Linked DNA regions of Homo sapiens. The protein of the gene in region 3 purifies or fractionates together with the protein of the main gene of each other region. This does not show direct contact. Each region holds a gene or a part of one and is shown on either strand. Other genes may lie near its edges.

What was found. Proteins that work in one complex are often made in the same cells at the same time.
Region 1: the proteins of BRINP3 (region 3) and FAT1 purify together in Homo sapiens (affinity purification with mass spectrometry; 2 studies listed by BioGRID and IntAct, with this or other methods). This does not show direct contact.
Region 2: the proteins of BRINP3 (region 3) and NRP2 purify together in Homo sapiens (affinity purification with mass spectrometry; 2 studies listed by BioGRID and IntAct, with this or other methods). This does not show direct contact.
Region 4: the proteins of BRINP3 (region 3) and KIAA0232 purify together in Homo sapiens (affinity purification with mass spectrometry; 2 studies listed by BioGRID and IntAct, with this or other methods). This does not show direct contact.

Annotation. Positions count from the first base shown.
Region 1 is NC_000004.12:186,710,357-186,713,856, reverse strand, and holds part of FAT1 (protocadherin Fat 1 isoform 1 precursor), read left to right. Parts: intron 1-3,500.
Region 2 is NC_000002.12:205,745,001-205,748,500, reverse strand, and holds part of NRP2 (neuropilin-2 isoform 2 precursor), read right to left. Parts: intron 2,756-3,500; coding exon 2,611-2,755; intron 1-2,610.
Region 3 is NC_000001.11:190,475,065-190,479,248, forward strand, and holds the start of BRINP3 (BMP/retinoic acid-inducible neural-specific protein 3 isoform 1 precursor), read right to left. Parts: upstream 2,801-4,184; 5' UTR 2,384-2,800; intron 924-2,383; exon of another isoform or gene 716-923; intron 1-715. UniProt on the Homo sapiens protein: Inhibits neuronal cell proliferation by negative regulation of the cell cycle transition. Promotes pituitary gonadotrope cell proliferation, migration and invasion, when overexpressed. May play a role in cell pituitary tumor development.
Region 4 is NC_000004.12:6,859,227-6,862,726, reverse strand, and holds part of KIAA0232 (uncharacterized protein KIAA0232), read right to left. Parts: intron 1,827-3,500; coding exon 1-1,826.

The DNA.
Region 1 (3,500 bases), on a different chromosome or scaffold from region 3:
ACATGAGCCAGGCGTGCTGGTGGTTCCTGAGTATGTAAAATTCTGTCAGTCTAAATCTACAGACGCACCTATAGTCCCAGCTACTCAGGAGGCTGAGACGGGGGCCCGGAAAGCTCAAAGCTTCAGTGAGCCGTGATCGCGCCACTGCACTCCAGCCTGGGTGAGAGAGCGAGACTCTGTCTAAAAAAGAAAAAAAATTGAATAAATAAATGGAGGAAGATAGACAAATCAGTTTCTAGAAGAATTATAAATATTTTGAGTAGCGAAACTCTCTGTCTCTTAAGAATGGGCTACATGCAGTGACTTCCTTACCAAGAATACAGTACAGGGAGGGGTGAAAGTAACCTGACTGTGAGGAAACCTGGCAGATACTACCTCAGTCACGTGGTCAGGAGCAGCGTCAACATCGATAAATCGTGTTGATTTTACCCGCTTGCTACGGTGTGGTGGAAACGACTCTACCTCTGTGGCTTTTCTCCCCAAAACAGAACCCCAATCTAATCAGGAGAGAAACGTCAGATTCCAGTTGAGGGACATCCTACAAAATACCTGACTAGTACTTCTGGAAACTGTCCAGATCATTAAAAGCAAGGAAAATCTGAGAAACGTACATTCCAGAGGAGCCTTAGGAGACATGACAGCTAAATGTAAGGTGGTGTCTTGGAAGGGATTCTAGGATGGAGAGAAGGCCTTGGGTAAAATGAGCAAATTTGAGTGAAGTATGGACTGTAGTTGATGATGTGTCAGTACTGGTTTGTTAGTTGTATCTAGTATAATGTACTAAAGTGAGATGTTAACAGTAGGGGAAGCTCTCTTTGCAACTTTTCTGTAAGTCTAAAAGCATTCTAAAATAAGGTTTATTTTTAAAAAGAACCCCCTTCATGATAGGTTCTCTCCCAGGATGTGCCCCGGCCTTACCGCTGTCCCTCAACCGCTGTGCTCCAGCCACGTGGTCTCTTTCTGGCTTCCCTAATCTAGTGCTTCTCTGCGGGGTGTGACTTTCTGCCCTAGAGGGTGTTTGGCAATGTCTCGAGATAGAGGTATTTTTAGTCATCACAGCTGGGTGATGAGGGGGATGCCACAGGCTTCATGCTGGTGGGGACCAGGAATCATATTGAACACTCTACGTTTCCCCAAAGAATCTAAGAGTTGCCCAGCATGTCACTAGTGTAAGCCCTGACCCTTTGGATTTAGGGTTCCCTCTTTTCCTTCAGGTTCCTGACCCTGGTCTCTCTTTGCCCTGCTTTAGTTTTCTCCTTAGCACTTAATTATCAGCATCGGATATACTCTGTTTACTTGTCTGTCTGTGTCTGGCCAGGAAATGTATCTTCCATCAGGACTTGTTGGTAATTTGGTTCACTTTTGAATCCCCAGCGTCTAGAACTGCACCTGATACATAGTAGATGCTCATTAAACCTATGTAAAAGGAATTAAATAATTAATGAAAGGGGTGAGTGGATGATAAAGACAACACATACTCATGCTAAAAAAAAACCACAGTAGAGAAAAATGCCACAGTAATCATTCCCTCAGCTACCTGTTTCTCTACCGGTTCTCCAGAAGTTACCACTGTTAACAGTTGCTTGTCTGCCTAGACTTTTCTGTCCATTTTAAAGTATATCCGTGGGTACATTGTATCTACCCCCCTTCTCCTCTCTTTTAAATAAACATAAATAGGATCAGCTTCGTTTTTCCAGTTTATATAGCTAGACATATGTCAACATACAGAGTGCTATCTTTTAATGGCTGCATGATAACTTTATACGTAGAATTAAGCAAAAATACTTCTAGTACTTGCAATAGAATCCTGGTATAATATTTTGTTGTACAATGGATGATGGTAAAAATGTCTCCTAAAACATAATGTGACTCCTAAAACAAAAGACACTGCTTGCTAAACATCATCCAAGTGTTTCTGGTTTTGTTTTTTTGTTTTTGAGACAGAGTCTAGCTCTGTTGCCCAGGCTGGAGTGCAGTGGCGCGATCTCGGCTCACTGCAATCTCTGCCTCCCGGGTTCAAGTGATTCTCCTGCCTCAGCCTCTGGAGTAACTGAGATTACAGGCTTGCTCCACCATATCCTGCTAATTTTTGTATTTTTAGTAGAGATGGGGTTTCACCATGTTTTGGCCAGGCTGGTCTCGAACTCCTGAGCTCAAGGGATCCGGCTGCATTGGCCTCCCAAAGTTCTGGGATTACAGGTGTGAGCCACCGTGACCAGCCTCTTTATATGTATTTTTATTTCTAGTTTGTAAATCCCTTGGGATTGGGATCTTTGTCTTTTATTCCTTAACACCATGCAAGGTTCTGTCTGATAAGGTCCTCCATACCTGTAGGTTGAACTTTTTATTTGTTTTGATAAAATTACAAGATTATTTTATAATATTCAAATTTCCCTGAGTATTAGAACTGTTGACTAAATGGAGATACTTAAAGAGATAGTTTTGGGAGAAAATTGTTTTCTTATTTTGTTTAAATGATAATTGTTCTCCTAGAAGCCAAAAATCTGTCTAATTTCTGACTTTATCTGGAGAGGAGAAGGCATCATAGCTAAAGAACAAGTTAGGGTGGCCAACTTGAACGTGGTTCAATATCAATTAAGCTTTAATTGCTTTAAGCACATCAGGTCTTTTTTTCCCCCTAAGGCAATGACTTATGGGGCAGAGTTGGCAGTAGCTAAGTTAAGATACTATAAATTAATGTTGTCGTACCAATTTCAACTGGGCTGTCAAACCCACCCTCCAGTTTGCTCTTCATTTACCTCTGGTAGCATTCACATTTTGTGAATATTAATTTGAGAGTCACTTTGCAAGATGACAGTGCTGTCCTTTGTGAAGCTGTGTTGATTTACAAGATGAATTTGTTGGCAAAGGGGAACAGTTGATCTGAAAATAACTGTCCTGCTTCCCTGGCCAGACCTCAGCCCAGTGGACTTCGCCCACCTTCCCATTTGTCATTGTTAAAGGCAACGTTTTCTTCATTTCTTCAGTTTCTCTCTTTTCTCCGCCAGTCACCCAGGGACTGTCCTGCAGAGTCTGCCACCATGTATTAATAGACTGATTTGACCCTTGACGTGTGTTAGCTTAGAAGATTTAGCTTTTGTGTGTGTGTGTCATCTTCTCATGGAGGGGCCCAGGGTGACAGGTTGTTCGATGCCCTGAAGATAGGAGACATTCTGTGAACAACTGGTTGTTGACAGCAGTGGTGATAAAACATTGATATAGTTGGTAAAGTTTGCTTCACTGACTTAGAGAGGAAAAATGCTGTTTGACATCAGGCTGCTGAATTCTGGTTTTTCTTTTGTAAATTGCCTTTCTTTGGGGCTTATGTTGCTGATAAGTATTATACTTGATATAATTATTTTAATACTTTTAAGTAGTTACATAGAGCGAAATGAGACAATAAACCCTTACATTATGTAGGGAGTGAACTTAACCATTCTTATACAGAAATAATATAATTTCAGGATACATTTTGAAATGAGATTACAAGCTGTTCTTAT
Region 2 (3,500 bases), on a different chromosome or scaffold from region 3:
TTGCTCACAGTAAATAGCAAATAACCTCGAAGTGTCCTAATTTGTAAGTTCAAGTTTGTCACTGTGTCATAGAAACTCGATTGTAAAGCAAACTATGGGGCAGTAAGGCAAAACATAATTATTTGAAACACAAACCAACTAACAGGTGAAGCAGCCCTGTCAAAGTATTTAGCTGCAGCAGCTCAGCCCAGCCCATTATTTTTCCTGTTATCCTTTGGGATAGGGATGAAGAAGTGAACCGAAGATGAGTGTGAGAAACAGATGGAAATTCGAAAAGCAAACATAGCCACGTGACCTATGGAGAACAGTTTCTGGAAATGTTAGGTAGCAAAATGGGTCAGCTGATTGGTGTAAAGAATGTTAAACCCAGGGGCCAATGAGGCACCGGAGGGCAGGGCGTGTAAATGAAAGTGGAGGAACGGCGGGCACCGAGGCCTCGGTGTTTATACTGTTTGTACTATGTTTGTACTGGGTGCTCCAAGGTAACTGCCCATCAAACAGCAACGCTACCCCTGAAATTGAAACCAGATGTCAGAGACTTCAAAGGAAAGGAGGCTGGGCAGAGGGGAACGCTCCTCAACTCTGATCTTCCAAGGAATGGCCAGGCAGGGCTTTGAAATAAGAAACCTGTCACTGACCATCACCAGTGTAATTTGGGGCATGTTGGGATTGGGGAGCAATGAAGGAAAGAGGTCATTAGCAACTGTCCCACTGGCCAGACTGGGAGGGCATGGCACTGAAGGGCAAGGGATGGGGGGAAGAATGAGGTGGACTTCATCCAGCTGAGTGACCTCTGGCAAGTGACTTCTACCTTCTGGGGCTGTTTCCTTGTCTATGAAAGAGGAATTGGCCCAGGTCTGTGATATTTCCCAAACCACGCATCACTCTCATCATTGGGTTGTGGAATCCGTCGAATAGGTCATGACCAGCTTTTAAAACATACCGACTATAATATTTTGGAGTGCACTTCCATGGTTAAGATGACCATTGCTTTGGGAACCTTTTGTTTCAGTTACAGTTATTTATCATAACAGGTTTGCTGGGTGCAGGCAGTAGTCTAAGTATTTCACATCCATTCATTCATTTAATCCTCACAATGACCCTATGGGGTAGACAGACTATTGTCCTCTCCATTTTTCAGCTAAGATAACCAAGGCGCTGAGAGACTAACTTTTCTGAGGTTATGCAGCCAGCCAATGGCAGGGGCAGGACTTGAACTTGGCAATCTGTCTCCAGAGTCCAAGCACTTACCCATACACTGTACCCCGTATACACCACTGTGTGTGAGTGCTTATAAGTGAAGCGGGTTGTGAAGGAAAATTATTTTAAATTGTGTATCATGGGCAGAAGTGTGTGAAAGCCACTGGCTTACAAGCTCCTGGATCCCCTACAGCGCTGAGCCCCTGATTCCAGGGCACATAAATGAAGCCAGCTTGTATCGGGGGGAGGTTTTCTGCACCTGTGAGAGGACGGGTGACACACGTTTAGCAGGCTGCAGGGAACTTTGGCCTCATCCCCAGGTAATGGGGAGTTAAGTGTCTTCCTATGAAGATGTGTTCGCTGGGGCTGCCTTCAATTCAAAAGTGAGGAGGCTAATTTGGGCCCAATTCCCAGCCCGTGTGCCTCAACAGGGCTCCTCTGCGCTGCTGTAGCCAGCATACAGGCAGCATTTTTCTCCCTGGGAGCCAAAAGCACTTCTCCGACATGCCCTTATTAATCCCTCATGCCATCCTGCCGGCTGAGCCCGTGACAGGTACGGCACAGACAGGAAAATGGGGATACCTGGGGCTCTGGCGGAGGAGGGCAGGATAGCTCAGGCTGGTGGCTGCTCCTGCTGGCATCAGGCTCAGTCCCTGAGCCCCAGTGGCTCCCACAAACTCCTTTTGGCAGGCAGTGAGTGAGCTCTGGGTAAGATCTGGTGCCAGCTCTGCTGAGGGAGGAGGGCTGGCGACCCAAGGAAAGGAAGGTAGGGCCTGACTCAGAAGGGCAGGGCCCTCCCTCGGAAACCAGGAAGGCTGGGCACCCTCCGTGGGCCTCACCCTCATTTGGAATGATGAGAGGTGTTCCCCAAGGCCTGGGCCACCTGGCAGGAATGAGCAGGACAATGAGAAGGAGTCCTGCCCCCATCAGCTCCCTGCAACAGGGTCCCTCCTGAGCAAATAAATGCCTTTTACAGATGTGGCTCCGAAATGAAAATGAAGTCTCTTAGCCACTGACATCTGGAGGCCAGATTCAGACATAAACCGATTACTTTATTATCATGAGGGGTTTTTTTCTTCCCTAAATCAACAGCCACAGCCCTCTGGCCTGAAGAGCCAGGGTCTAATTGAATTTGGGTGGGTGGTGTGTGGTTATGATTTGTTTTTGAGAGACTCGGGTTGGAGAACTGAAATGATCCCTTAAAAAAGACAAAGTACATCCCTTGAGAAACTGTCCCAAGTCCAGAGGCTGCAGTACCCGTGGTCTGAGGCAGGAGAACATGGCAGGGGTCTGCAGCATTTCCAGCTCCTGGGATGGCTGCCCCCTCCACAGCCCTCCCAGGGCCTCGTGGGATGCCAGGGTCAGAGGACCATGTGGGTGAGATGCAAAGAGGAGGAAATGTCATCTTACCTGTCCAGTCACAGCCCAGCACCTCCAGCCGCATCCCAATCCCCGCCGGCGACCACCTCTCCGGGTATACCCGCACATACTGTGCCGGAATGGGGTCAAACCTTCGGATGTCAGGGGTGTCATAGTGCATGTTCCCTTCGAACAGCTGCAGGGAGAGAGGCCACTCAGCCCTTCTGGTGTGGGACCCAGTCCCTATCACCTTCTTCCCTTTCCTTCCCCTTCTCCTCCCTGCCCCGCACGTCCTGCTAGGAAGGCAGCTTCCTAGTTGATTCCTGGTCACTGGGACATTCTGATCCACGCGAGCTTCATTTTCAGACCAAGGATTTTATTCATTTGGAAGGTGGTTATGGACCCAGAATTATGGAAAATAGGAAGTAAACAAAGGTGGCAATTTCCAGGTTGTGTCTTTTACCTGGTGACTAAAATGGAGTATCTGGGGAAGAATTTGGCTCCAACTGCGTTTTCAGCTGACTTTGGCTAGAGAGGGGGGAAGGCAGTTTGGGCGATCTTTGACCGTTCTGAATTCCTGGTCTACAGGGAAAGGAACACTTCTTTTTCTAATGTGTGAAAGCCTCCATTGAGGTAACCCAAGCTGACTGATAGTTCCTAGCTCACTGAGAACCTTACGGGAAAATGACCCCTAGGCCAATGACACTGTCTTCTGGTCACACATCGATAGTCTTAGACTGTTTCCCAAACCTTTGTTTAGGGAAAGCACTCCTGTCAAAAGAAACCTCACATGGAGCCCCAGTACATAAAACTGATGATGCGGGGAGCAGGGGGCTGCTTTGGAGGACCAGCCTAGAGTACACTTGGAGACACTCATCCGGGGGAAGGACAGGAGTGGGTGGCCAGGGCCTGCAGCTGATTAGCCCCCAGAAATTCAGCAG
Region 3 (4,184 bases):
ATCTAACTCTCTTCCGCTCTCCCCACCGCCCTCCAGATTCTTGGGAGTTGGTGAAGGAAAGGAAGGAGTGACCGTCAGCAATAATACTTTAACACAGAGCCTAAGAAGTCATTCAACAGTTCTAAACCCTACTTCGCAGTCAGACAAGGACAGTGATTAGGGTTTTATAAAGCAGGCATTCTGAGGAATCGTCGTTTACTAACGTTAAATATAGCTCATTAAAATAAATAAATATTAACGCAAAAAGGTACTAAGAGACTCCAGAGATCTTAAGTCTATTCTCTCATACAGAAGAGGTTTGCTCAAGTTTGGCTTAGGAAGGTTGGAAATGGAGCATTCTGGAAGGATGGAAACCCCCTGGCGCACCCCACTCTATGGGGCTGCAAATGCCCACACCAAGCACACGTTCGCTGCAGGGGCTGAGTGCAGAGCCTGAGCTAGCAGGTCAGAGTAGGGGACACCTTTCCTACACGCATGGGTTATTCCCACATCAACACCAAGCCTGGGGCCAGCTGGTCAACCAGGCACCTTGCTCTCCTCCGTTCCCTGAGCTCAGGTGGCATAGGCGTTGCCGTGAGCTGCGGAGAAATCTCCACGCAGAGTCGCCTGTTGATAACCCTCCAGTTAAAACGTTCTTGGCAGCGGGAGCCCCTCAGATGTAAATTTCCCTTTCACACGCTTGAGCTTCAGGTATAATACAGCAAAACGCACTTACCTAAATACTGACTGTCTGTTCCTTACTGGATCTGACTGTACTGAAAGTTTTTTTTTTCTTTTTCTTTTTTTTTTCCTCCCTCCACCCTTGCGCAACAACAGCAGTCCTCCAAAGAGAATGTTTGAATTGAATTATATGAAGCCCTCCTTTCTTCAAATGAAGTCACGGACTCTGATGGCACTGGCTTGTCAGGCAGGACGACCGGACTGGGAAAGAGACCAGGTAGAAACTAGTGACCTAGTGACGGGTGAGGGGCGCCAAGTGGTGCGGACCACAGTCTCAACCCCCGTTCCCTCTCGGTGGGAGTCAAGGGGGAAAAGCCCTTGAATCCCGAGACGGGGGGATGGGGCGACGCTGCAGCTGGAGTACTTTTATGTCTGGGAGCTAAAAGGGCTTTTGAATTTAAAAAAACATTGCTTGGGTTGTCGCGTCAGCCATCAATGACGACAAGAATAGTTATTTCCCAGAAATTAAAAAAAAAAAAAAGGAAAAGAAAAGCGTGAACAATAGGTTCTTACCTCCATGTATCCCAAGAAAAGGAAATGTTGTAGAGACCAGGAACTTGTCCTTAATTTGAGGGCGGGGGGCGGATGTTCAGAGAAAACCCTCAGTGGGTGTTAAAAATTACCGATACATGCAGGTTTGGCATTTAATGAATATCGTGCTTTCCTCATTATGTGTCAATTGTGAAGTAAAAGTAAAGATTAAAATGTTTCTCAACACAACTATACGGAAGAGGAGGTGATAATCTTGTCAGTTAAGTCCATAGAAATGTTCATAAAAGCAAAAGGCACTGACCATATTAACATGCCTATTAAACACAAGGGTTGGGGGCAGACAAGTATGAAGAGTGAGGCAATTAAATTTTTCATGTAAAGTCTATTCTTGAATTTCAATTTATCAGAACCAAGATAATCAGGGGTTTCTTCTGATTGCTCCTCTCTGAAATGAGTACTCTGTGTCCAATTAACTGTTCACCAGCTAATTCACAAAATCAGAAATGTACTGACAAATACTATGCCTGAATTAAAATACAATGCCTAAAATAACGTGCTTATGTGTGATTTGAAATATTTTAAGAAAAAAAAATGGTGCCCTCAAAACTCACAGTCCTCTTCCTACCATTCAGTGGCATTTTAGTGCTTAAGGTCTTGCTAAATTCATAAAAATACACTTTGCAACAAAGTCTTCCTTCAGTCATGTAATTGCTTATCATGAACAAATGCTGACCTGAACAACCTTCTGAATATCCGACTAGCGAACTTTCCAGACCTTGCAATTGTCAGAAGGTCTCTTTTAAGCTCTCTCTTAGATAAACCTATAAAATGTGACATTTCAAATGGCACAGGAATGTGTGCCAAGAAGGGTTAATGGGGGTGGGGGCGATTAATGTCCGTGTAACCCATAATATAAATGAGGACAAATATTTTAAAAATAAAGAAGGTAAAAGATATTGGGGTAATACATGGGATATTGGGGTAATACATTACATGGGTTATGTCTTAGCAGTGCAGTTGCCACTAACATACTAATTAATAAATATGGCCATATGGATCTTTCAGTTCTGAAAGTAACAAAAATGTGAAAAATGAAATACTTCAACAAAACAGAGCTTATTAAAAATAGCAATAGTTAAGTTTCTAGTAACAGATAAAGAGAATAACTTACCAGAGGAAATTTCAGGAAGCAAGAAGACTGTGAGAAAAATACATCCAGGATTCAAATAGATATTCCATGATCTTCCAAATCAAGGTAAAGTAGTGAGCTGCAGGGTAGTAGGACTTTAAAATAATCAGCAGTTCCTGGTGGCATGTAACCAAGTAAAAACCAGTTACACAGAGAGCCACGAACCCCCAAGGCAAGAAAGCAGAATGTGAAAATGCTTTATATGGGGGGGTGGGGAATGGTGGGGGGTGATTCGTGGTGATCCTTAAGCAAAGTGAAAATTTACAGGCTGCACATCCCCATACAGTGGGGAAAGGCAGAAGCTGTGTAACCCCAGAGAACAGGAGGTGGAATACAGATAAATCTGCAAAGAGAAGTAAAAGGATGTGTTGAAGACAACGAGATAAAGAGAGAACTAGTGAGCAAGGCTGTAGTCATCCTGATAGATATAGCAGCAAGAATGATTTAGGCTGCTGGGGAGGATCCAATGAGAATTCAAGAGGGCACCACTTCGGAAATCCTGCTCTGATCTTCCCACTCTCAGTTCTTTAAGAGTTACCTGCGTTGGGACCATTATCATTAGGATTAATAGTATTCCATCAGTGCATTTCACTAGTATTTCCCTTGAACATTTTCACTTGCAGCAACTGAGGGAGGCGTAGTAAGGAAGCCCAACACAACCAATTCCCCCACTCCCCAAATAAACCACTACGACCGGTCACATTACGATGACCAAATCATCAGCGATTTGCACGAGGCGGTGGGGGGTGGGGGGTGCGGGCGGTGATCGAAGGGCTGAAGATGCGGAGGAGGCCGAGTCGCTAGGCGCTTTCGGGGGCGCTGTGCCGGTGAGGCTTAGGCAAGGGGACGGGGAACCGTGGTTAGATGCAGCAGCGGCGGCAGCAGCCCTCCCAGGTCCCACTTCTTTGGCGTTCCTGCTGCCTGTGACTCAAGACAATTGACTTCCACCTGAACCCTCAGCTCCGAACGCCTTGCATTAGAAGCTAGAGCTTTGGAGGTTCTGAGGACGGTCCCTGGGGAGCAAGTGGTAGGTTTCGAGGCGCCCGCTTCCCCTCTGATTCCTGCAGTAACTGAGAGAGAGTGTGCCAGAAATGGCTTTGCTGCCGAATGCATTATCTTGCCATTTTCGTGTCCCAATACTGAACAAACGATCGCCTGATCGATCGGTAAGATTAGCTTTATTCCTTCTCCCTATTCCTCTCCTTGGCCCCATTCCCTCTGCAAGTCCAAACCCCAGTCTCTCTCTCTCTCTCTCTCTCCCTCCCTCTCTCTCTCTCTCTCTCTCTCTCCAGGAACTTCTTCCTCTTTGAAACCGGTTTCCCAAGGGAACTGCCTGTGTGACTGAGAGGCTAGTAATCTGTTTGTAGATGATTTATATTTTGGCTGCAGAATGAATCCCCCTCCCTACTCGGAGTACTCTCCTTAGAGATGATCCCCCGCCCCCTCCCCATGGGTTCGCTCTCAGAGCTGGGATCTGTATAAAGAGCGCTGTGGGAGTCTTTTGCCCTCCGCTCTAGCTCTATCTTCCTCCGGACCCCGAAGCTTAAGAATTATCCGCCTCACTCTCTTTTTTAGAAATAGGAGGGAAAGGTAGAGTGGAAATTGATTTCTTGCAGAGACTGAGGCGCTGAATGATAGAGGGAATAAACATTTGCCCTGGATAAAAATGTTCTTGGTAAGTAATCTTATTTTCTGCGGTTGAAAAAGAAACAGATTGCTTCTCACTGCCCCATCCCCCACTCCATTCATTTATTTGCTCTCTGTATGTAAATCACGAGCTGGG
Region 4 (3,500 bases), on a different chromosome or scaffold from region 3:
AAACTAATGTAGGAATCTCACCTAAAGTTCTACTGTTTTGCTGGCAAGTTTCATCTTGCAAAAAATCTAGAAGTTCTTCATCTACATAATTTGACGAGACTCTAGGAACTACATAATTAATATCTTCGGCATTAAACTGTGTGGATTCTTCAAACTGAATATTTAATGTTTCATTGTCTGAACGTGTTTCTTCTGAATGGGACCATGGACTACAAGTTCTTGTTGAAAGATTAGAACAGTGTTCATTTTCTTCAAAGGCACTATTTTTGGTCCATATTAGCAATCTAGACTGTGTTTTCCCAAGCATATTAGCACTAGAATCTGTATTTTCATTTCCCAAGTTGAGTGTTTCAAAAGAAAATGGTAAAACAGAATTACTGCATTGCACTTCAAACACTGAAAAACAAGAGTTTATACCAGATCCTTCATTAATATCTGAAAAGAGCTCTTGATTGCCAGCAAGCAGGTGTGAATTGAGCACTGTGCTGTCTAAGATGGGAGAGAGTCTAACTGGAGAGTCTCCTCCAAAACTCTCCCCATCAGCATCACCGGAGCTGGATGAACAGCACTCCCAAAACTGAGCCAGATTGCCAAGGTCCTGCAGGAATAAGCCCTCAGCACCTACGGAGCTGGTAGAATCTGTCCATATTGCACGTTCCCCTTGCAACTCCATACCATCTAACACTATGCAACATTCTGCCTCAAAATCTGTGTTCTCTTTGCTTTTCTGTCGAATCATATTCAAAATCCGACTTTCTCCTTGCATTGTTTCTGAGGCACCAGGATCCAACATGGATTGATCAATATCCACTTCATAGAAGTGCGTTAATTCTGATAGATGAATATCATCCAGGTATTTATTGTCCTCTGGTAGAGAACATAATGAGGTCCCAGTGAGGTCAATATCCTCATTTATAACTGCAGGCATTTCTACAAAATGACCATCAATGAAAGTACCTGCTGCGAGGTATGTTTTATGAAGATTATTGTTGCTGATACAAAGACCATGCACTGATTCAGACAATTCTTCCACTGCCTCTGATGTCAGATCACTTGTATCCTGTCTGTTTCGGTATGTGGTCTCTAGTTTACTTTTTCTGCTCAGAGGAACAAAATATTCAGCAATTGGCTCGGTGTACCACAAGGGCTCCTCTTTATACTCTGTGTCCTTTCTATTCTCCATGTACAGGTCTTTTCCTTCAGTGCTCCCAGGATCTTTTCTCCCTATTTCTTTTAAAGGTCTCTTACCCCGCTTGCACAGCTGTTTGACAGAACCACTGCTGCTACTGCTACTACTTCCAGTATGAATGTTCCTTTCAGCCTTTTCACCGTGCTTCAAAGAAAGCCTGCTTTGCCCATTCCGCCCTTTTTTGTTTCGAATCTCTCGTGCCTTGTGTCTTACTTTAACATACTTCATGGATGCTTTTAATTCTCCCTGATTCCCACTGGAACTTGAGCCTGCTTCACTGGAGCCAGAAGACCACGAGCGAGGGCGAATCTTTCCTTCAGGTTTATGTCGGATTTGCTTTTTGTACAAAGCAGGCTTTTCTTCAATTGTGCCATTACTAAATTTGTTTTCCTTCTCGTTTTTGCTTTTGCTCTGGGTTTTCTCATGCACAGTGGTGGGTACTTCACTGCTTCTTTCCTTGGTGACTTCACTTTCACTGTTGCAGTCCTTAGGAGAGGAAGTATCTGTGCTAGCTGGTGGGGCTGTGGATGATGAAGAAGAGCTAGAGTAAGAACAGACTTTAGACTTGTTCCACACAGTCATGATTTCTTGCAGGCAAACTGGTTTCTCAGAAAGTGGTGGAAATGCTTCATAGTACCTGAAAAACAGAGTAAAGACTTCAAAACACGAGTATGCAGATTTTTTAGATACAGTAAAACAACATTACCAACCAGAAGAATGGAATATTTCATTTTAGTAGTGTCAACATTCACATCATCCAAGAATCATTAACTTTACAATAATTTATAATACAGTAAAATATGCTTAAGATTAGTCCCATGCATCAAGCACCATTTTGCTCAGCACTGTGATACGCACTGTAAGATTACTGAGAAAATATGTAAGATGACAGTTTTTATCTTCAAAGTTTGCATTTTAATTAAGAAGTCAAAAAGGACAAATAGTAGAAGAAAGAATGCAGTCTCTTCAGTAAGCATTATCTGAATTTGAATCTCAGCTAAGTCACTATTGCTTGCGACTTTAAGCTCATTATTTACTGCTTCAGACTATTTCCTCAACTGCAAAATGGTGATCCTATGACTTACCTCCCAAAGTTATTGTGAGCGTTGAAAATATATGCGGTTAAAAAGCTCGGTAGCAATCAGTCAAGAGTATGAGCTCTGAAGCCACATTCTCTGAGGTCAAATCCTGGCTCTGCCTGCTTTACTAGCTGTGTGACCTTAGGCATGTTACTTAACCTCTCCATAGCTCAGTTTCCTCACCTACAAAATAGAGCTAGTAATATTTACCTCTCAGGGTTGTGAGGAGTAAAGGAATTAATATGCAAAATGAGTTGGAACAGCAGCTTCTTACGTAACTGCTAGCATACTGCCTGGCATTGAAGCAGGCCCTCAGAAAGGGTAGGAATGATCACATTCAAGTATTCAGAAAGAGGATGTCGGTGAGGCCTACAACAATTAAAGTGGGCCACAACTGAGCCTTGAAATTCCAGATTTATTCCACAAGTTTAGTGAGTACTACCTGTGAGGCCTGAGAGCCTGTGTGAGGACACCAAGACACACATGTTATGCTCACAGAATGGAAAACTAACTAGAGCTGTGATCACCAGAAATGCAGCGTAGAAAAAGCCAGGGAGGCTGGTTTCAGGGGGCTTGAAAATGAGAAAGTATTTTTGATTTGCTAGGAAACTGGGGGCCACTGAAGATTTCAGAGCAGAACAGATTGCAAAGGGCAGAATTTAAAGTCACATTGGCTACTGGGGACTGTTGTTTCAGAGGCAATGCTCAAGGTCACACATGAAGTGGTAAAAGGCCATGTTTTCAAAGGGCCTGAACTTGATTCTCTTTCTCAGTCTATGTCAGAGTTGACCAACAGAAATATATTTTGAGCTTCATATGTAATTTTAAGTGTTCTAGTAGGCACATTAAAAACATAAGAAATAGGTGAAATGCACTCCAGTAATATATTTAACTAAACTCCTGATATTATCATTTCAACATGTAATCAATACTTTAAAATGTTTAATACTTTACTTTTTTTTATATATAGTCTTTGAAATCCAATGAGAATTGTCCACTGACAGCACATCACGGTTTGAACCAGCCCCATTTCAAGTGCTCAGTAGTCACACATGGCTTACAGCTTCTGTGCTGGATAATACAGGTCTATACAAACCAAGGAAATGCTATTTTTTTCTTAGGTTTCAGAGGTTCGAAAGATTAAAATAAAATGTATAATAGGGAAGTCTGTTTATAATGCAGATTATTTTAAGACTATTTACGAACAAAAAAATAAAAGTATCTTTAGGAAG